4 linked regions of the Homo sapiens genome follow. The protein of the gene in region 4 purifies or fractionates together with the protein of the main gene of each other region. This does not show direct contact. Each region holds a gene or a part of one and is shown on either strand. Other genes may lie near its edges.

What was found.
Region 1: the proteins of TM4SF18 (region 4) and MAOB purify together in Homo sapiens (affinity purification with mass spectrometry; one large-scale study listed by BioGRID and IntAct). This does not show direct contact.
Region 2: the proteins of TM4SF18 (region 4) and CD47 purify together in Homo sapiens (affinity purification with mass spectrometry; 2 studies listed by BioGRID and IntAct, with this or other methods). This does not show direct contact.
Region 3: the proteins of TM4SF18 (region 4) and CD320 purify together in Homo sapiens (affinity purification with mass spectrometry; 2 studies listed by BioGRID and IntAct, with this or other methods). This does not show direct contact.

The regions. Positions count from the first base shown.
Region 1 is NC_000023.11:43,878,875-43,884,455, reverse strand, and holds the start of MAOB (amine oxidase [flavin-containing] B), read left to right. Parts: upstream 1-2,005; 5' UTR 2,006-2,156; coding exon 2,157-2,202; intron 2,203-5,581.
Region 2 is NC_000003.12:108,052,256-108,057,302, reverse strand, and holds part of CD47 (leukocyte surface antigen CD47 isoform 1 precursor), read left to right. Parts: intron 1-1,736; exon of another isoform or gene 1,737-1,783; intron 1,784-2,954; exon of another isoform or gene 2,955-3,050; intron 3,051-5,047. UniProt on the Homo sapiens protein: Adhesive protein that mediates cell-to-cell interactions. Acts as a receptor for thrombospondin THBS1 and as modulator of integrin signaling through the activation of heterotrimeric G proteins.
Region 3 is NC_000019.10:8,300,851-8,306,129, forward strand, and holds the end of CD320 (CD320 antigen isoform 1 precursor), read right to left. Parts: intron 4,307-5,279; coding exon 4,181-4,306; intron 3,239-4,180; coding exon 3,005-3,238; intron 2,131-3,004; coding exon 1,927-2,130; intron 1,756-1,926; coding exon 1,613-1,755; 3' UTR 1,277-1,612; downstream 1-1,276. UniProt on the Homo sapiens protein: Receptor for transcobalamin saturated with cobalamin (TCbl). Plays an important role in cobalamin uptake. Plasma membrane protein that is expressed on follicular dendritic cells (FDC) and mediates interaction with germinal center B cells.
Region 4 is NC_000003.12:149,322,635-149,327,681, reverse strand, and holds part of TM4SF18 (transmembrane 4 L6 family member 18), read left to right. Parts: intron 1-2,659; coding exon 2,660-2,802; intron 2,803-5,047.

The DNA.
Region 1 (5,581 bases), on a different chromosome or scaffold from region 4:
GTTTGGGGAAAATGCTGTTTGCTAATGAATTTTCTCCAGATACCATGGAACCGTGTGGATCCTCTCCTGCCCTCATTGCCAGTTGGACATAGAGAAGGGTTTATCAGTCTGCCTTTTATTCAAAGTCTTAGATCCCCAGGCTCCTGGCTGACTTGCACTGTTGGAACTAAGCAAAAGAGATTCCAAGAAGATCCCACAAGGATCTCGTGTTAGTCCATTTTGTGCTGCTAGTACAGAATACCTAAGGGGGGTAATTTACATTGAAGAGAAATTTATTGTATCATGGTTCTAGAGTCTGCAAATTCCAAGATGAGATGTTGGCATCTGGCAAAGGCCTTCCCAATATGTCATCCCATGGCAGAAGGGCAATGAGGGTTAGAAGGAGCAAGAGGTCAAATTTGCTGTCTCAGGCCCTTTTTATAGTGGCATTAATCCATTCATGAGGATGGAGCCCTTGGAACCTAAACATGCCCCAACATTGTTGCATTGAGGATTGAATTTCCAACACGTGAACTTTGGGGGACACATTCAAACCGTAGCAGATCCTCTCCATTCATCCTACCTCACCTGGCACGTAATTCACTTGCAGGCTAGGTGGGGAGACAAGAGTATCCACAGCCAAGAAGCCCACAGCTTCAGGGACCTGTGAACAGAAGTGGACCAGATAGGGGATGGCAAGGAGGAGGTCAGCACAAACTGTCTGCAGGGTGAGGTAGCTTCATTCTCTGCAGTGGGGACATGAGGTAGGGATCGGGGTTCAGGCACAGGGTCTGACTGTTTTATACCAAAGCAGGACAGATGGAAGTCAGAGGTGGACAAAGACTTTTCCTGTCACCTGTGACTCAGTCACAGAAGTGCCCAAATTGTCTTCTGGTCTGAGGACAGCAGAAGCTCAGGATACCTTTCTAGCAGGTAGATACAGGGAATGGTGTGGGATGAGGCAGAGGTTTGCTTCAGGTTCTCATCAAATTCCCCAGATCTGAAGCCAGCCCCTCTCAGGCCTGAACAGAAGCACTTCACCTGTTTATTTCTTGAAAAGCCATTCTATGTTGCTGCTTCCCACTTTTAGTTCTCAGAGGTGGCTTTCCTACTGTCCAGAAGACATAAACTTCTGTTTTCCCTGGAGTCACCTTAGCTTAAACTCCTATAATCTTGTTGAATCATCCCTGTGTTTGGCTAAACCAGGCTCCTCATACCCACGTTCCAGGGTCACACAGGTAACTTGGCTTGCTGCTTCTGGGGGCTCTGAATCCCACAATGCCGATCCACCACCTCTTCCCTGCTGCCACTAGTCTCCTGGGGTCTAGCCTCAACAGCTTCCACCAAGGACACACTGCATTGCTTAAGAGTGTATTTAAGGTGCGGCATTTGTGATGCTAGGGAGGAGCCTTCCTGACTTAATCACGTAGGGGGAGTGGGGAAAGAAGTGGGTATTTGGAAGGAGGGTGAGGTGGGCTGGGAATGCCAAGAAATGGTAGTACTGTGTGGTGAATCAAAGTGGGTCTTGGAATCTTCCTAGCTTTTCTTTTCTTTTCTTTTCTTTTTTTTTCTTTCTGACTTTTTATCTTATGTTGTCACTCACCATGTTTTGTTTTCCTCATCTGCAAAATGGATTGTTGTAAGCTTGAACAGGAATCATGCATAAAGTACTGAGCACAGTGCCTGGTACCTTGAAATCACTCAATGGAAGTTTCTTATTATTTGCCCTACACCCAAGGAGTAATTGGGGCCCTGAAGGAAGACACCCCAATTTGCCGTCCTCCCAGCCGCCAAGCCTGATAGTGCACTAGGGAGGCTGATGGGAAAATACCGTGCAGAAGGCTGAGGAGTGGGGATTCTGGGGCGGGACTCTTTGAAGTCCTAGGTGACCTCTCCGCCCAGGCACCCGCCCTCCCCGGGCCTGGGCTGCAGAGCTGCGGGCGGGGGCGGTGGCCCTGCGCTGCACCCGGCCTGCCTGCGCGTAGGCGGGCGGGCGGGGCTGCGCGTCCGGGCTCCCGGGGCTGGTAATATAGCGGCTCGCCGAGGCGCTGGTGCACGGGGGCAGCGCGCAGCAGGCCGGCGGGCAGGCGGGCGGGCTGGCTGGCAGGCAGGACTGGGATCGAGGCCCAGAAAACGGAGCAGCGGGCACCAGGGAGGCCTGGAACGGGGCGAGCGCCATGAGCAACAAATGCGACGTGGTCGTGGTGGGGGGCGGCATCTCAGGTTAGTCGCGGCTGTGCGCCCTCCTTCCTCTTCACGCGCTCGGACAGGTGGCTGCCTGGGGGAGACGCGGGGGGCGGCCGTGGGGCAGGGGCTGACCCTGGAGTCCCCAGACTGTCCACGCACGGGCAGGGCTCTAGTGGGTCCAGAGCGCCGTGCACTGAACCCTCCTTTGGGGGCAATTTTGGGTGCGTTCCCGGACGCAGAGGCCAGAGGCTGGAAGCCTGTTGCAGCTCTGGGGCCAGACTTTGAACTTCTCCCCCAGAAGGCTGCTAGGCCTTCGCTTGCTGGAATTTTCGAAGCCAGGGAAAAGGGGTGGGGAGGTGGCACAAAGGTCAGTCATTTGCTCCAACTTGACCTGGACACTCCGCACCCTCGCTTAGAGCAAGCATGCACCACATCGTATTGTTGTCCTGGCGTCAGGAAAACGACCTTGAACAGAAGAGGTTGGAGCCTGGCCAATCGATTGCCAAAGACTTTCCAGGCCCTCCTGATTCTTTGAGGTTCTGTGATTGTCACGGATCTAACTTGAGGCTGCAGTGTCTTTTTGGCAAATGCCTGTTTTCCTCTTATGCCTCTCGCACCCCCACTCCACCCCACCCCACTCCTAGCGCAGGGTGGCCAAGCTGCAGCTTTGCTCTCTGGCCTAGCCCATATTTGGCAAGGATGGGGACAGACACTACCCCCTCAGCCACACGGGGCTGTGTACATACCAAGGGCACCGAAAAATAGAAGCCAGAAGAAGGGATGGGGGTAGTGGTGGAACTTACCCTCTGTGGAGGATCAGGCAGATCCTATGGGATAGGGTCAATGGGAATCAATGATGCTCTCAGCACAGCCTGTTTAATGGCCCCCTGGGCATGCTTTGGCCCACCTCCTAACGCTGCCTAGTACTTGAGCAGTAATTAGGACACCTCCAGACCCGTGGATGCATTGTCTAAGACTTGCCTTAAGGAGTTCTCAAGTGGCCTTTGGGAAGTAGAGGTTGGCCTTGCTCCCTGCCAGGAGGGCAGGACAGAGTTGTTCTGACTCTCCTGTGGCTGGAGAAAAAACCAAGGCATTGGATGTTTGGTGCTGACCATGGTCCAGTCCTCCTGCCTCTGCTCCAGCCTTTCTCCCCTTTGGGTGGGATCTCAGGCTACCACATCTGTCTAGCAGGCTCTGGTGAGCTCGCCCATGCCAGGCCCTGTGCCTGGTGTTGCAGGTACATAGATGCGTAATCACAACATGCTGAGGTTGGCCAAGGCTGTGTATAAATTCAGTTTTCTTTCAGTATTTTTGACATCTTCTCTCCTAGAGGAAGTTGGACTTAAAAGCATACCTACTTAGGTGTTTTAGAAAATATTACTAAGTGCCTCTTGATGCTGCCTTGCATAGCACCCCATCTTACAGAAGCTGAAGTTTCTCTTTTCAGGCCCCCGAAGTCATTTTCTCACTAAAGTATGCCCAATGGATTCAGATTTTTCTATTTTCCCTTCATGATTTGTCCCTTTCTGATTCATACTCCACACCTTCAGGTTCAATCACATTACTCATGTTAGACTCATCTGGAAAAGGTAGATAAGGGTTTAACTATTTTTGCAAGCAGTGGTGAAACCTCTGCATTCATCCTCCCGAACTCTGATCAAAACAAGGTACTGATGAGTAGATCTGACTTTTCTCAAGAACATTCCACGGAATAGGCATTGTTCTAAGAACCAAGAAAGCAGCCTTCCAAGGCCCAGTCTTACTCAATTGCTTCATCTGCTACATGGGGATAACACCAGTTAGTCACTGCTGGATTACAGGGCAAGTGAAACAATGTGAGTAAAATAGCTTTGCAGAGTCTGAAATATGGCACAAGCCCCTCAAGAGTTTTACCCATTTATTCAGACAATAGGAATTGAGGGAGGCTGTGTAGGGGATTCAAAAATGGATCATGTTGTTCTTGCCCCGGAAGACTTGTCAATTCAAGAAGGGTGATGGGATACTCAGACAATACAAGGTAGAAGGTGGTGCGTGCCATGGGAGGGGTCCATTCATTGATTCATTATTCATTCATTCAATGAACATTTACTTCCTGTTCCACATTTTGTCCCAAAAGAAATAAAAGATGATTTATACAGGGCCATTGTTCCTGGGGCCCTCACAAGCTGATGTGGAAGACAGTCAAGAATAATTACTACTCTTTGGCATATGATAGGTGCTTTAATAGTGCATATAAAAAATTCTAGGGAAGGTGATTGGAGAGAACATCAAACTCTGTCTGAGAAAATCTAAGAACTCACAGAGTTGGTGACATCTGAACTATGTCTTCAGGAATGAATATGAATTCACCAGGGGACTAGATGAAGAAAGCATTTTTAAACTAAAGAGCAGCTTGTATAAAACCACAAATATGTGAAAGAACATGCTAACGTGTAGGATAACTTAAGAACTTCATTGCGGAGAGTTGCCAGAGGGGTCTGGTGGGAGAGAAAGCTAGAAAAGTCAGTTGGGATGAATTATGGGGAGGCTTGTATATCAGAAAGGTTTAGCTCTTTCTGTGATCAATGAATAGCACTGATGATTTTTTATTCAGAGTGCCATGCATCAAATGGCGTGTGTCACATCTGATGGTGATATTAGCAAAAAGAGGGATATGAAGAAGAGGGAGAGAAGGTTTTGGGAAAAGATAGGACGTCTAGAGTTGGAGGTTCTGGGAGGACACCCAGGGAGAGAAATCTAGCAGTTGGAATGAAATTGGGGTTACAAATGTGTACGATAGAGGTTTTAGTAGATGAAATGGCCAAAATCAAGAGTGTAGTGTGTAGAATTTTCGAATTAGTAGGTGACCAACACAATGATTTATGTTTAAAAGTCTCTGGATTTGACTCTGCGTTCTAAGCTTTGTTAATTATTAAACTTGGGACATTCTGGCAATTCCCTGATAATTTTTAAAGCTGTCAGCAAATTTTAATCACTCCCTTTGGGATAAACAGAGACATACTGGGAGGATAGCTGGTTAATACATAACTTTCTTTTTTGATGTTTTAAAAGTTCCAAGATAGTTGTAGACTAACTTTTTAGAAATGTGTATGGTGTATAAATGAGTATGCACTGAAATCTCTTTTACCCAAGGGGCAGATCATCTCCAGAGACTTGGCAGAGCAATGACATCTCCCACATGGAACTGGACAGCAGCACGTTGCATCTGTCCCGCGTCTCTCAGTTTTAGTGTTTGGGTGGGTGGAACCATGGAAACTATCTTTTGCAATTCTGGAATAGTTCTTGTTCAATCCCCAAAATAAAAACTAAAAAAGGCAACTTGAAGCAGAAACAAGAAAGTTTTGGCCAGACTTAGGAGAGGAGATTTGGTCATTTGAGGGTGGCAGGCACTTGTTTGAGATCCCTGGAAGTGTTG
Region 2 (5,047 bases), about 41 Mb from region 4:
AGTTTAAGACCAGAAGTCAGAAAATACAATTGGAATGATTTGAGGGTAATTAAAGAGGGTAGAAGACATATAGGATTAATGAAAATTTGGTTTCCAAAGTAGTTTAAAGGAAAATGGCTTTATCTATTAGAATGTGTACCTTTTTATACTAAGTAAAAGGGGAGAGATCTTTGAGGATCCATTTTAAGTAATAGAATAGGATTTTTAATTGTTCCAGTGTTTCTGTGATAGAGCTGTCCTGCACAGACCTGTTTGTTTGTCACTTGCTCTTTTTCTTGCAGACATAGACACCCCAGACAGGAATTAAAATTCACAATCTATCAATTTTGTTCATTTAAAGAGCAGTGACCTCTAATGCATGACTTTAAAACAGTTCTAGTTAAAACCAATATAATGAAAACATTGAGTTTCAAAATTTAGGCTTTTACTCCTTTTAAAATCAATTATTAGTAAGTATGGAATTTACTTCATTGTTTCTAACTTGTATATTTAATCTGCCAATTTTCAAGTAACATTTCTGCATAAATTCTTATTTTTTATTGAGATATATGTACACAGAGAGATATTTTCAATTGTGCCTGAAACTAATGTTATCTTACCTAAGCTCAAGATGTTCCCAATAATGTAATTTATATTAGTTTCCGTTTTTTAAAAAAATTATATTTTTATGAAATAAAACATACTCTTAACCACCTATCAAAATAATCAAAAGTTATAAATTAATGGAGTAAAAAAATAGTGTTTCTGCTTTGCTTTAGGTAAACTTTGCTGTATGTGTTTCTAAAACTTAATACGAAACTTGAATTGTTATAGTCAAATAATTTCTCATATGACTCACATAATAGTTTCAAAAAACTTTTACCTTTATTTCTGAACTTTGGTTCTTGATGATTGTTAATTGAATTCAATTCTGTCATATATTCTGTGTCTTTCTTTAATTAATGCTTATTAGATAAATAATTAAAATACTTAACTAAAATCTGCGTATCCTTAGCATATGAGTTCATAAGTCTTAGTTGTTGCTCAATGAAATTTTCTAATTTTATACCACATAATGCCATAAAATACAATGGAGACATCTAAAGCAGAATGGAATTCATGTGGTAGCTACAGTGAACATCTTGAATGTTGGTGCATATTCTATTTTTGTTACATCTTCCAATCACCATGTGTCTGGTTCTGGAAGATGACACTCCTGGTTTTGTTGCTCCCCACAAATGCCTGAGAATAGTGTGTGATTTGCAGTATCCATACAACTCTGGTGAAGTAGTATGAGATACCTTTGGCTGACGGGCAGCACGCTCTTATTTTTTCCTCACTATCTGGGTTGTCCTCCCTTTTACTCCCATGCCACCCCATGCCTTCCATATCTAGCATAGAATGATCTTCAGTACAGTTGCCAGCAGGTCTGGTGACAATGTCTCAAGTGGAACTAAGCATTGTCTATCTGCCACCTCCTTAACTTCACTCTCCTGCCTTCTCCATCACTTACGTTCCTCCAAGCCTGTGAAACCACTGTACTGTACCTGTCACTGTTCTGACATTAAAATTAAAATGACTTAAATCTTGACAAGTACCCCAAATTATTTTTTCTTTGTCATAGGTTAGCATATAAGTATACTATATGCTAAAATTTATGCTATATGTTTAAAATTTAGTGCAATTTTATTGATAGTGTCCTAATTTTATTGATAGTATCCTAAATTAACTTTTTAAATCAACTTGTCTGATGCCAGGGTTCAGAGGGACACCTACAGTCAGTTGAAAGGCAAGAAGAGACAAGGTACAGGAAAGTTGCTCTTTAGATAACATGGTAGACTAGGAGGAACATTAATATGGTTTGCTTATATAATCTGACTGTGTAAATCTGAATCTATGTAACATTAAGGTTGCAAATTTGAGCGTTTATATTAGGAAGTTAAAATTTTAAGTGTCTCCAAAATAATTTTTACTCATTGCACGTGTTCTGTTTTAGAAAAGCCTAATGATTGTGTTTTGATTTAAATGCAATAAAATCCTCAAATAGTTAAAAATCCAAGCTTTCTCTTCAAGAAGAAGTTAATGTCGCTATGAGATTTTTAACTTTTATAATTTTTATTATTTCCAACTTTAAATTTGTAGCCTTAATTTGCTATTTTAAAGAGTAGGCCTTTCACTTTCTACAACTTTCTGTGAAAGTGACTTTCACTTTCTATTTTTTAACTTTTTAAACTGTGTTGTATTTTTTTTCTTTTATTGGAAGCATTTTAATTTTATAAGATGAGAAAAAGGACTGGGCACAATAACTTAATGTGAAAGCATAGAAAAGATTACAAGAACCTAACCAAACTCACTAAAGTTGGGCTTGTTGTTTGTAGAGAACGTTTATATAATTATAAGGATCAATACTTTCTCATTTTTAAAGCCATTACCAGTTAGTTCAATATAAGGGCATATAGTGTTTTGATACAAATCAATCTGGTAGCAGTAAGTACCATATTTACCACAACATCCCAGATATTTTAGAATGATGCAGATGCAGAATATATACGTAGAATTTATATCTATGTATAGATACAAATTCAGATATTTTCTTGTTCAATTTAAGGAGAGGTAAATTTGGTATCAATAGAAAAAATGTTTCTGAAAAATTTAAACCCTGGAAATGTATTTATGGCATGGAGTCAGATGTTTCAGGGAGAGAAGAACAAATCAAGAAGCATTGCAAGTATGCTCATATGGAATGCTTAAGGCTTGTGGTTAAAAAATATATATATATGGCTGTCAATGTCTTAGGCTCATGGTAGCAGCAGAAATCGTAATAATTCTTTTGTCACATGGGTTATATCCATATTGGAGAGAATTAACTCAGGTGAAATTAACTTGTACACTGTTTGGTTTTATAATATTTAGAGGGATCACAACTGACTGATGTCCCTTTGAAGTACCATTCTTCATAAATCTTTTTTTTTCAGAATGGGCCAGCCAACTGTGACATCCCTTGGATCGGAGATTTAGAACTAGAAAGTATTCTTTCTACATTATTAGGGAAGAAAAGGAGTTACTTGGCGGTTAGCAATATTCTATTTTGTTTTGTTTTGTTTTTAGAGACAGGGTCTCATTATGTTGACCAGGCTGGCCTCGAGCTCCTGGGCTCAAGCAATGCTCCCACCTCAGCCTCCCAAGTAGCTGGGACTACAGGCATGTGCCACTACACCTGGCAGTGTTTATTCTGATAAATACATTTATGAGCTCAAAAATGTAACTCTAAAACCTTATCTCTGAACTTCCATATTACCATCAGAAATTTAGATAGTTGTTTAGTTCTCTTTTTCTTTGTAGAACATAGATATAAGGCATGGTTTCATTGAAGTCAGTTGTATATACATGTAACTATCCTGATGTTCCCAAATAAAGCTCTGTATTTCTGCTTAGTTTATTGGGGAGGCTGCTAAATGTAGTGCATCCCAACCCATTTTACCCTGTTCTACTTTAAAAAGAGGTTGGCTTCTTGTTTGGATACAAGGACCAAGTCACTCCCCCAGGTTCCTCCACAGTAAGGGAGGCCTATTTAAAGCCGCCCATGGCACTAACAGAAACTGGACTCCTATGAGCTCAGATACATAACTGGGCCTCACAGGGGTGGGACAGTATGTAGTCTAGGAATTGGAAGGATCCATTCCATATCAAAGAACTGAAGCATCGTGTTGCCCTCTCAGCAGCAAGAGTAAGGTGATGCCCCTGTCAGTTATAGTTCCTGAGTTCCTCTGTCTTTGATTCTTTGCCTATTAGCCAGCTAGCTCACCCTCTTGTTTATGCCACTGTTTTTTATCCTATTCATGCCTTCTCACAGACAACTTTTCTTACCTACAGCTTTGGACTCATCCTTGTCTCCTTTCTGTTTCTTTTTCACTTTCCCTTCCCATCACCAACTTTCTGGGTTTTTTTCTGTTTCTTCTTAGAGTCCAGTGGCAGGGAGAAACTTGTCAGTCCAGTCTGTTGCCATTTTTCCTGTTTGAGAAAGACTCACCAGCTTTTGGCTGGCTCACAGATTGGCTTTCCTTGGGTCAGGACCCACCCTTTTCCCTGCCAGCTTTGGAAGCTTGACAGAATTCGAGTGTGCAGTGGTGGTAAATAAATAGTAAGGAACACAGAGCAGTCCTGGAGGCGTGCCTCCATCTGCTGATGAGAAAATCCAGTGCTGTCATCCAGCCCAGGTCCCAGCGGAATGGGCCTCTCTGTTCAGTAGGATCCCCCTCCTGCTGAGTGGTTCATGGCATGTTTCTGTTCAACGCTTTTCCATCTGTAGGATTCTTATTCTGTATTTATTTGTTTTTTTGGGTTTTTTTATTTTTTGAGATGGAGTCTCGCTCTGTCGCCCAGGCTGGAGTGCAGTGGCACGACCCCAGCTCGCTGCAGCCTCTGCCTCCCAGGACGAGGGAGATCCTCCCACCTCAGCCTTCCACGTAGCTGGGACTACAGGCATGCACCACAGGCATGCACCACCACGCCAGCTAATTTTTGTATTTTTGGTAGAGACAGGGTTGCATCATGTTGCCCAGGCTGGTCTTGAATGCCTGAGCTCAAGCAATCTATTTGCCTTGGCCTCCCAAAGTGCTGGGATTACAGGCATGAGCCACCACGGCCAGCCTTCTCATTTGTTTTTTTTATAAGGAAGCTATCTCTTCTTCCCTCCCCAACTAGGGTATTCTTTTTCCCTTTCGTCACTTTGCTCATGTACTGTATTCCTTCAACTTCATTAATGAATCCATTTGGAAGCAGTGAAAAAGGCAACTCAGAAAGCTAAGAAGAAATAGATAGAGGAATACTCAGAGCTATCTGAGTATTTTCTTTAGTTTGTTAGCTCTTTGGAGCTTTGAAACTGGAAAGACCCAGGGAGTGATGTGGAGAAAGAGACTGAGCTTGTAAGACACAGGAGCAGTGAGCTAAGGGAGATGGAGTAGTGGGGACAAATTCTGGCACATTCTGTCTACACTCTGGGTAGATAGAGGAGGGAGGATGGAGCACCCATGGTGGGGGTATGTTGGTGACAGCATTTTCCCACCAG
Region 3 (5,279 bases), on a different chromosome or scaffold from region 4:
TCAGAGATTCAGAAGCTGAGGATAAGGGAGGAACTTTGCCCTGTCACCCAGAAGTCAGGGTGTGAATTAACTTTACCGGTCACCAACCTTTTTGGCAGCAGGGACTGGTTTCATGGAAGACAATTTTTCCACGGACCAGGGGTGGGGATGGTTTCAGGATGATTCAAGTACATTACTTGTTTTTGTTTGTTTTTTGAGACAGTCTTGCTGTGACACGCAGGCTGGAATGCAGTGGCCTGATCACGGCTCACTGCAGCCTGGACCTCCCAGGCTCAAGCAATCCTCCTACTTCAGCCTCCCAAGTAGCTGAGACTACAAGTGCACACCACCACCCACAGCTAGTTAAAAAAAAATGTATAGGCCAGGCACAGTGGTTCACGCCTGTAATCCCAGCACTTTAGGAGGCCGAGGCGGGCGGATCACCTGAGGTCGGGAGTTCAAGACCAGCCTGACCAACATGGAGAAACCCCTTATCTACTAAAAATACAAAATTAGCCAGGTGGGGTGGCACATGCCTGTAATCCCAGCAACAAGAACGAAACTCTGTCTCAAAAAAAAAAAAAAAAAAAAAAATTTGCAGAGATCCCTATGATGCCCAGGATAAATAATAAAACCTTTTTTTTCTTTTTTGAGACAGAGTCTCACTCTGTCACCCAGGCTGCAGTACAATGGCGTGATCTCAGCTCACTGCAATTTCCACCTCCCAGGTTCAAGGGATTCTCCTGTCTCAGCCTCCCGAGTAGCTGGGATTACAGACGCCTGCCACCACACCCAACCAATTTTTTGTATTTTTGGTAGAGACAGGGTTTCACCATATTGGCCAGGCTGGTCTCGAACTCCTGACCTCAGGTGATCCGCCCACCTCTCGGCCTCCCAAAGTGCTGGGATTACAGGTGTGAGCCACTGTGCCCGGCCAAAACGCAGTCTCTAAAAACATAATTAAAAAATAATTAAAACAGGGTGAGTCTGAGACCATCCCAGGAAACCTGGCTTCCACTGCACTGAGGAGGAAGCCACAGTGGGTGGGGGTCCCCAGACCTGGGAATGGGAAGGCACTGCCCAAGCTCTGCTCTTCTTCCAAGAATCCTGATGTTAACGCAGACTCCCCACCCCAGCCCTGCTGCCCCTGCTCCCAAAAAGCAAGCAGCACAGTAGCTGCACACAGGGCTGGGTGTCCATGTCCCACCTTCTATGGGCTGGGCTCTCATGGAGGAGGGGCTGCAGCAGCGACCCCAGGCTGCCCAGGCCAAGGGAGACAGAGACCCAGAGGCAGGCGGAGGATGTGAAGCAACTTTAATTGCCACCCTCAGACGGGGCAGCAGGAGTGTCTTAAGCACAGGGCCGTTCTACCCCCTGGGAGCTGCCTGGGGCCAGCCCCTCAGTTCTGGCTGTGGCAGGTTCCCCATCCTAGCTCCCCGGATCTCCATAGGGAGTGTCCAGGGACCCTCAATCTCCAGGGCCACTTCTGCAGGAGCTCGGGTTCGAGGTTCCACGTGGCCAGAAGAGCTCAGGTCTCTGAGGGCTGGTGTGCCCGGGTACCCATCCGCATCACTGCTCTCCTCCTGTCCGGCTACGCCCAGGGCTGAGTGACGGTGGTGGCAAGTGCTTGTCCTCAGGGCAGCGAGGTCTTCTGTTCTGACAGCAGCAGGGACTCCTTCATGGCCACCAGTAACCCCAGTGGGCGGAGGCGCTCCTGGGCTCGGAGCCAGGACAAAAGGAGGAGGGTGGCGGTGACCAGGCTTGCACTGAGCACCGCTGTGGGGAACAGATGGACAGAGGAGTAAGGAGGGGGAAGGCAAGAGCCCCCACACCCACCAAGCTCCATACACATGGGGATGGGAGTTCTGCAGCTCATCCCTCCCCACCCACCTCCCCTGAATCCCCGGAGCTCTAAGCCCCCAGCATGGGAGGGTAAGTCCCTCTTACCAGCAGCTGCAATAACCCCATAGGCAGTTGGGCTTCCAGACTGGTCTCCGGCAGAGGAGGATGTGGCATTCCCGACAGAGGGGACACTCTCCAGGGTCACAGGGGGCCCCATGGTTGTGGCATTCCTGAGAGAGGTGACACTCTCCAGGGTCACAGGGGGCCCCATGGTTGTGGCATCCCCTTCCGGGAGGATCTCATTGGTTCCTGCAATAAGCCCAGGCGTTCAGTAGTTGAGGAGAGAGCACTGAAGGCGTGAGGGGGCCAGATGCCCAGGGGAGCCCTTGGGGTTTATCCTCAACCAACCAGGCTGGGTGAAGCTGACTGCCCGTAATTATGTCTTTTTTTTTTTTTTTTTTTGGAGAGGGAGTCTGGCTCTGCCACCCAGGCTGGAGTGCAGTGGCGCAATATTGGCTCAGTGAAACCTCTGCCTCCTGAGTTCAAACAATTATCCTGTCTTAGCCTCCCGAGTAGCTGGGATTACAGGTGCACGCCACCACGCCTAGCTAACTTTTGTATTTTTAGTAGAGACAGGATTTCGCCATGTTGGCCAGACTGGTCTCGAACACCTCACCTCAGGTGATCTGCCTGCCTCGGCCTCCCAAAGTGCTAGGATTACAGGCGTTAGCCACCGTGCCCGGCCTTTTTTAAATTTTTTTGAGACAGAGTTTTGCTGTCACCCAGACTGGTGTGCAGTGGCCCAATCTCAGCTCACTGCAACCTCTGCCTCCCAGGTTCAAGCGGTTCTCCTGACTCAGCCTCCTGAGTAGCTCGGATTACAGGTGTGTGCCACCATGCCCAGCAAATTTTTTTGTACTTTTAGTAGAGACGGGGTTTCGCAGTGTTTGCCAGGCAGGTCTCGAAATCCTGACCTCAGATGATCCGCCCACCTCAGCCTCCCAAAGTGCTGGGATTACAGGCGTGAGCCACCGGGCCCGGCCCCTAATGATGTCTTGATTCCCCCACAGGGATGCAGGCACGGGCAAAGGCATGTGTCCACGCCCCCAGCCTGGCCACGCCCCAGCAGGCAGTGGGTGTCCCCATCTACCCACGAGTCCACCCCAGCCCCGCAGGTGCATACCACAGCCGAGCTCGTCGCTGGAGTCGGGACAGTCTGGGTGGCCGTCGCAGCGCCACGTGAGTGGAATGCAGTCATCGCTCAGCGTGCAACGGAGCTCGCCTGCTAGGCAGGCCAGGCGGCTGCAGTTGCGCAGTTTCTTGTCAGTTCCCCCAGAGCAGTCACTGACGCCGGTGCAGGGGCAGGGGAGGCCAGGGGGCGGTGGGCATTGCCCTTTCTGGGTACATGGCTCAATCCCTGGGGCACAGGGTTGGTCAGGTCCCAAATGCCCACCCAAGAAGGCCCAGGTACTCCCTGAAACCCCATCCCCTGCAAGCCCCACCCTCTAAGAACAGCTGAGCCCAAAAAAATGCTCCCTTCCTAAGGCTCCGCCCCCTGCAACTGTTAACTCCACTTTCTAAGGACAGGCCTCCCTGCAAGCTCTTCCCCTGAGACCCCACTAGCTCTACCTTCCTACAAGCCCACTTTATTCTATTTGTTTGTTTGTTTCTTTCTTTATTTTTTCTTTTGAGACGGGGTCTCCCTTTGCTGCCCAGGCTGCAGTGCAGTGGCGCAATCTCGACTCACTGAAACCTCTGCCTCCCAGGGTCAAGTGATTCTCCTGCCTTAGCCTCCTGACTAGCTGGGATTACAGGGGCCTGCCGCCACATCCAGCTAACTTTTGTATTTTTAGTAGAGATGGGGTTTCACTGTGTTGGCCAGGCTGGTCTCGAACGCCTGACCTCAAGTGATCCGCCTGCCTTGGCCTCCCAAAGTGCTGGGATTACATGTGTGAGCCACCGTACCTGGCTCCCTCCCTCTCTCTTTCCTTCCTTTCTTTCCTTTCTTTCATTTTTCTTTTTTTTTTCTTTTTCTTTTTTTTTCCTGAGACAGTCTTACTCTGTTGCCCAGGCTGGAGTGCACTGGCACAATCCTAGCTCACTGCAGCGGCAACCTCCCAGGATCAAGTGATCGATCCTCCCACCCTAGCCTCCCAAAGTGCTGGGATTGCAGGCGTGAGCCACTGCGCCCAGCCCAAGCCCATCTTAGACCCCGCTTCTTATGACCCACAGACCCAAGTCGCACCCATCCCTGCGGCCCTGCCTTTCCCACAAGCTCCACCTCCGCGTGCCTGGCCCCTGACAAACCACCCTCAGGCCCCGCCCCCTGTAAGCCCCGCCAAGGGGCGTGGCCACTCACTGCACTCCTCCTCATCGCTGCCATCGCTGCAGTCCAAGTCCCTGTCGCAGCGCCAGGTGAGGGGCACGCATAAGCCACTGGTGCGGCACTGGAACTTGGTGGGTGGGCACGAGCCTGAGCTGGGGCCTGCGAGATGGATGCAAATGAAGCCTGGGAAGCTGGAGGCTGGACCTTTCTCCAAGAGCACAGTAGTCACTGGCTGTGATCCGCAGGAGACAGGCGAAGTCCCGGGATATAGGAACCACACTGGCGGCTGCTTGTTACTGAGCCCCTAGTACGAGTGGGGTTCAGAGTGTAGCAGTTCCTGGGCTCAAGAGCCCCACTGGGCAGGTGCTACTGCACTCCCCAGGTTACAGAGAAAGGAACCAAGAGGAGGCCATACAGCTGGTGGCAGAGGCTGGGTGCAGTGGCTCACGCCTGTAATCTCAGCACTTTGGCAGGCCGAGGCAGGTGGATCACTTGAGGTCACGAGTTCGAGACCAGCCTGGCCTACATGGAAACCCCGTCTCTGTTAAAAATACAAAAATTAGCCGGGCGTGGTAGTGCACGCCTGTAATGCCAGCTACTCGGGAGGCTGAAGCATGAGAATCGCTTAAACCTGGGAGATGGAGGTTGCAATGAACCGAAATCATACTGCTGCACTCCAGCCTGGGCGACAGAACGAGACTCCGTCACCACAAAAAAGAAAAAAAAAAGAGCTGGTAGCGGAGTTGGGCTTCGAACTCAGGTCTCGCTGATCCCAGAGTCTTCACCAGGCTCCTCATAGCGAGATGATCTGCCAGGGAGACCTCCAAACTCAGTGGTTAAAGAGACTGAGGGACGGGCCATTTTTCCACATGCCCTGGGTCAGGCTCCCGGGCTCAGGTCAGCAGGGAGGGTCTATCTCCTCTGCGTAGCAAAAGGGAAACTGAGGCAGTGGGTGGGAAACTGAGGCACTGGGTAGAAAATCTGCTCAGTCACCAAGTCCTGTTGCCCCGCCTCCTGAATTCCTCCCAGACCTATCACTCTCCCCATCCTAAATGTGTCAGCTCCTCACCAGAGCCCCAGGCCCCAGGCCCCAAGGTCCATTAGGACACCAGAGACTTGCCTTTCCCTCTCT
Region 4 (5,047 bases):
TAAAATCACAGGTTTGTTGGTCTTACTTTTTCTGGTCTCAGCTTTTGAATTTATTATCAATTGGTTACTGCATGTTACTATTCTGCTGCCTACTCTCACCCTGCAATCAACATTTCTAAAGCTAATTTTTCCCCCAAACCAAATAACCTTTCTTGGTATCCTTATTTCTGTCTCCTTTTTATCCAAGCCCCAGCTCTGGATTTTTTTTTTTTTTTCATCTCCAGCTACTCATTTCCTCCTTAATGTGTTTTCCTCCAATGTGTGTCTTTGTCACCTCAACTTGCATCTGTCTCCAAGCTGGATCCTTATCTTTGAGGTCTCTTACTTCCAGCTTGTGTGACCACTGCCAGAGCAATCTTCCAAAAGCACATTTTGGGCATATCACTTCCTGCTCAAAAACCAATTACAAGACTTGTTTAAAAAATAGTTTCTGGCCGGACACAGCGGCTCATGCCTGTAATCCCAGCACTTTGGGAGGCCAAGGCAGGTGGATCCCCTGAGGTCAGGAGTTTGAGAGCAGCCTGGCCAACATGGTGAAACCCCATATCTACTAAAAATACAAAAATGAGCTAGGCGTGGCGGCACGTGCCTGTAGTCCCAGCTACTCAGGAGGCTGAGGCAGGAGAATCGTTTGAACCCAGGAGGTGGAGGTTGCAGTGAGCCATGATCAGGCCCTGCACTCCCGCCTGGGTGACAGAGTGAGACTACAACTCAAAAACAACAACAAAACAACAACAACAACAAAACCCCAGCTTCTTCCAGGTCTATGGCAGGGTAAGCTCAAAATGAACCTGGAACATCTTGTGCCAGAAAGCAAGAAAATGTTCAAAGAATGACATGAGTATGTCAAAGGGCATAGGAGTTGACCTACAGGGATGTTCACATTGGCCGAATTTGGACCATCTGTGCATCTAAAAGAATAATCGCATTTATGGATTATAGCACAATGAATTAGAAGATCTGTGAGTCCAGAAAATATAGACAGAGGCAAAGGAGAGAGGAATGGGAAATGGAAGTTGTTCTGTGCAGAAAAATGATAACATAAATGCAGATAAATTATAGCATTATGAAAGCAGCACATTGGAACCACAGTGATTGCTGGTAATCAATGAATATGAGGATCATCAGTGGATGCTAAATCCATCAGTTGAAATGTTATTAAGAAACAGAATATGACACTGTCTCAAAGCATCACCTTGGCAGTTATTTACTAATTGCCAAGAGGAAAATGTACCTATCCAGGGAAGAGATCTGAAGGATACTCTTAACCAAGAGATCAAACTTAGCACCACCCTTAGCATGAAAGGCCCACAATGTACACCACACCCATTAAGTATTCTCGCTAAAATGTTTGAATTCAATTGTGAGAAAATAATCAGAAAAGCCCAGAATGTGAGACATCTACAAGACAACTGTCAGGGATTCTTAAAAACAGTTTAACACCCCAAAAAACAAAAAGGCAGAAAGACTAGTGTAAATTAAAGGAAACTAAAGAGATGTAGTCTTGTACATAAACCTTTATTGGATCCTGTACAAAAAAAATTTAAAAGTTACAAAATAATAGAATGTTTTTATTCTTAGGAGGTGTATGCTGAAATATTTAGGGGTGAAATATCATAATGTCTGCAACCTAATGGCTCAGTAACAAAAACACATAATAAATACATATTTGTATATATGTACAGGTGTACATATATACTTTGCATGAATATATACACACATACACACAGAGAAAGAGAGAAAGCACAAACAAATATGGTAAAATATTCATGTAGGTGATTCTAGATAAAGGATATGTAGGGGTTTATTGTGCTATACTTTCAACTTTTTTGTAGATTTGACATTTTTTAAGGTTGGGAGGAGGGAAGTCCCTTGCCCTGAAGGATAAAGTCCAGATTTCTTAACCTGGCATTCAAGGCCAGCTCTGGCCTGGATCTACCAAGCTGTACTCACTTTTTAAGCTACTCAAGGGCTGAATTGTGCCCTATCAACCTTGTTTTCCCAGCATTAGTACCATGTCAATCTGTCTTCAGAGCCTTTCTCCTCACTCATCTGAATAAACCCCTCTTAGATTAAACCTACTTTCTCACAACTCTGGTTGCACTGATCTGCCTGTGAATAACACCCATTCTCTCTACTCAAATGAAAACACCCCCCTCTCCATCAATCCTATCGTCACTTGAATATGAATATAAATTTCAATACTATACCTGACATTTTCCTTTATATTGTTGTAAAGATATTTTAATATCTTTATAAGAGGAAAGCAGAGGTCATAGCTTATAATTCTTAGAGAACCCACTCTACCTAGAAAATAACAGGTCTTCAATAGATAGTTATGGGTTGATTGATCACATCCTTCACTGCATTTTCATAAGAGGAGATCATTATTTTGATATCAAAATTCCACAAGGAAAGAATAAATTTAGTAAATTACCTAGTTACCTCTATGTGATGCCAAACTAAACGTTATTTAAAAGCTTATTTTTAAGATCAAATAGGTTTGGATTACTTTTTTTTTTATTTCTATGTGGGCATTTAGTATTGTATAGACTGCATGAGCTTGGGTGAATAGGGGAATGTAGCTATCTGATAATTTATCCACAATATCCCCTTGTCGCATTCTATGGTACTAACCTGCTTCTATGTTTTAATTTAGACACTGCTGTCAATTATCTTTTCTTCCCTCGGAATTGCTTTTTCTGGATACTGCCTGGTCATCTCTGCCTTGGGTCTTGTCCAAGGGCCATATTGCCGCACCCTTGATGGCTGGGAGTATGCTTTTGAAGGCACTGCTGGACGGTAAGGAATAATTCCCCAAACCAAGGAGGTCGGAAAATCAGAAACACCTTGCCTCATGCTCAAGCTCACGCTCATTTTCCATGATCACTTTGGGGTTCCATGTGGCTGTTTTAGTGCAGAATTTCCCTGTTAGTTTACTAATATCCAGACCAATTTGTTCTTGCACAGATCTTTGTTTAGATTTTTTTCTTCAGTCTTTTAATGCCATTTTCATTCAATGTCTTGAGGTTGTCATGGAGCTATCCAAATGAAAGGTGTGTTTCTCCCATACCTCAGATTAAAGTTGTGTGGTTACTATGGTCTGGTCTGGTAACAGCTGGAGCTTATGGACTGGGTGGATCCAGGAACTCAGTTTTGTTTTATGGCCAGGTTGGACATGTGGTCTGTTACAAGTGTAAAAGGGCTTGAGGAGGAGAGAAACCATGGTGCTCTTGGATGGTGCCACTCAGGGCTATAGTAGGAGGGATGATAAAGAGATAGAACAAGGCAGGATGAGCAGGAAAGTACAGTCTGAGGTCCAGGAACATGATTAGGTGCAGGAGTTTGTGGAATGAGCCAGAGCTTATGCAGCTTATACTGGAGAAGGGTCTAAAGAGGTAGCCTTGCTCAGAAGGCTAGTAATTCAGTCAGGAGTCTCACAACCCAATCCCGGATCTCAGAATGCCTCACACTGGCATTGTGCTGGGCTTATTGGGTTCCCAGCACCAGATGCAGATTAGGAGGTAGCAGGGCCCAGAAAGAAATACAGAAGAGGTCCAGAATTCTAATGGAGTAAAATGAGGGAATGTCTGTACCATTCACTGGGGGAAGTTAAATTTTCTTCTCAACTCTCCATGATTAGCTTTATTGTTCAAGGCCCATGTCCATCTGAGGTCTTACATGTGCATCTAGGCCTACATGGCAGAGCTGCTTCTGTGACTGTAGCTGCCTTCATTCTGAAGATTTTTACATGGTGCCATATACCATGACCTTTCTTAGCAAACATGACTCTCCCTCAGGTCTCTCCTACTTGCATATCCATTTATAGGCTCTCTGCAAGAAGAAAAATATGGCTCTTTTTGCCCAACCCCACAGGCAGTCAGACCTTATGGTTGTCTTCCCTTGTTCCCTAAAAATCTCTGTTATTCTGCTCTTTTTCAATGTGCACTGATTTCATATTGTTCAAACCACATGTTTTACAATCAATTTGTACAGTTAACACAATTATCACAGTGGTCCTGAGGTGGTGTACATCCTCAACTTATGAAGATAACAGGATTAAGAGATTAGAGTAAAAACAGGCATAAGAAATTATAAAAGTATTATTTGGGAACTGATAAATGTCCATGAAATCTTCACAATTCATGTTTCTCTGCCGCGGCTCCAGCCAGTCCCACCATTTGGGGTCCCCGACTTCCTGCAACATTGCAAGTCATCTTGTTTTAAATTGCTAGATGATCTGTGCAGAGCATGTACTAGGAACAGTCTAGAGGAGGGATCTGGAGGGACTCATTTCCCTGGCAGCTGAGATGGAGATAGGGGTAAATGGGGGTATGAGATAGGTTTAGGGAAATTTAACAGAAAGCCACATCTGTATTGTACTTTACAGGTTCCAAACTGTTTGTATACACATTCTTACCAAATATTCACAATAACTCTGGGGTTAGATATTTTAACCCCATTATCAAGATAAGAGTCTGGAGGGCCAGGCGCGGTGGCTCATGCCTGTAATCCCAGCACTTTGGGAGGGTGAGGCAGGCAGATCATGAGGTCAGGAGATCGAGACCATCCTGGCTCACACGGTGAAACCCCGTCTCTACTAAAAAAATACAAAAAATTAGCCGGGCGTGGTGGCGGGTGCCTGTAGCTACTTGGGAGGCTGAGGCAGGAGAATGGCGTGAACCAGGGAGGCGGAGCTTGCAGTGAGCGAAGATGCGCCACTGCACTCCAGCCTGGGCGACAGAGCAAGACTCCGTCTCAAAAAAAAAAAAAAAAGTCTGGAGGCCAGAGGGGTAAAGTTCTTTGCTCAACATCCTGCAGACCCAAATCCAGGAATTCTGATTTCATATTCTGTGCTCTTTCCCATTGGAGACAAGAGCCATTAACAATATAAAGAAATTCTCAGAGTGCCTCTATTTCCTGGAGCATTAGAAAGTAGAAAATAAATAAAGGTGGGGAAAGAGTAAAAAAGAAGGAAGTAGGAAAGAAATGGAAGAGGGAGAAAGAAAAACAAAGAGGCCATGGGGGTGATAAGGCAAGCACAACA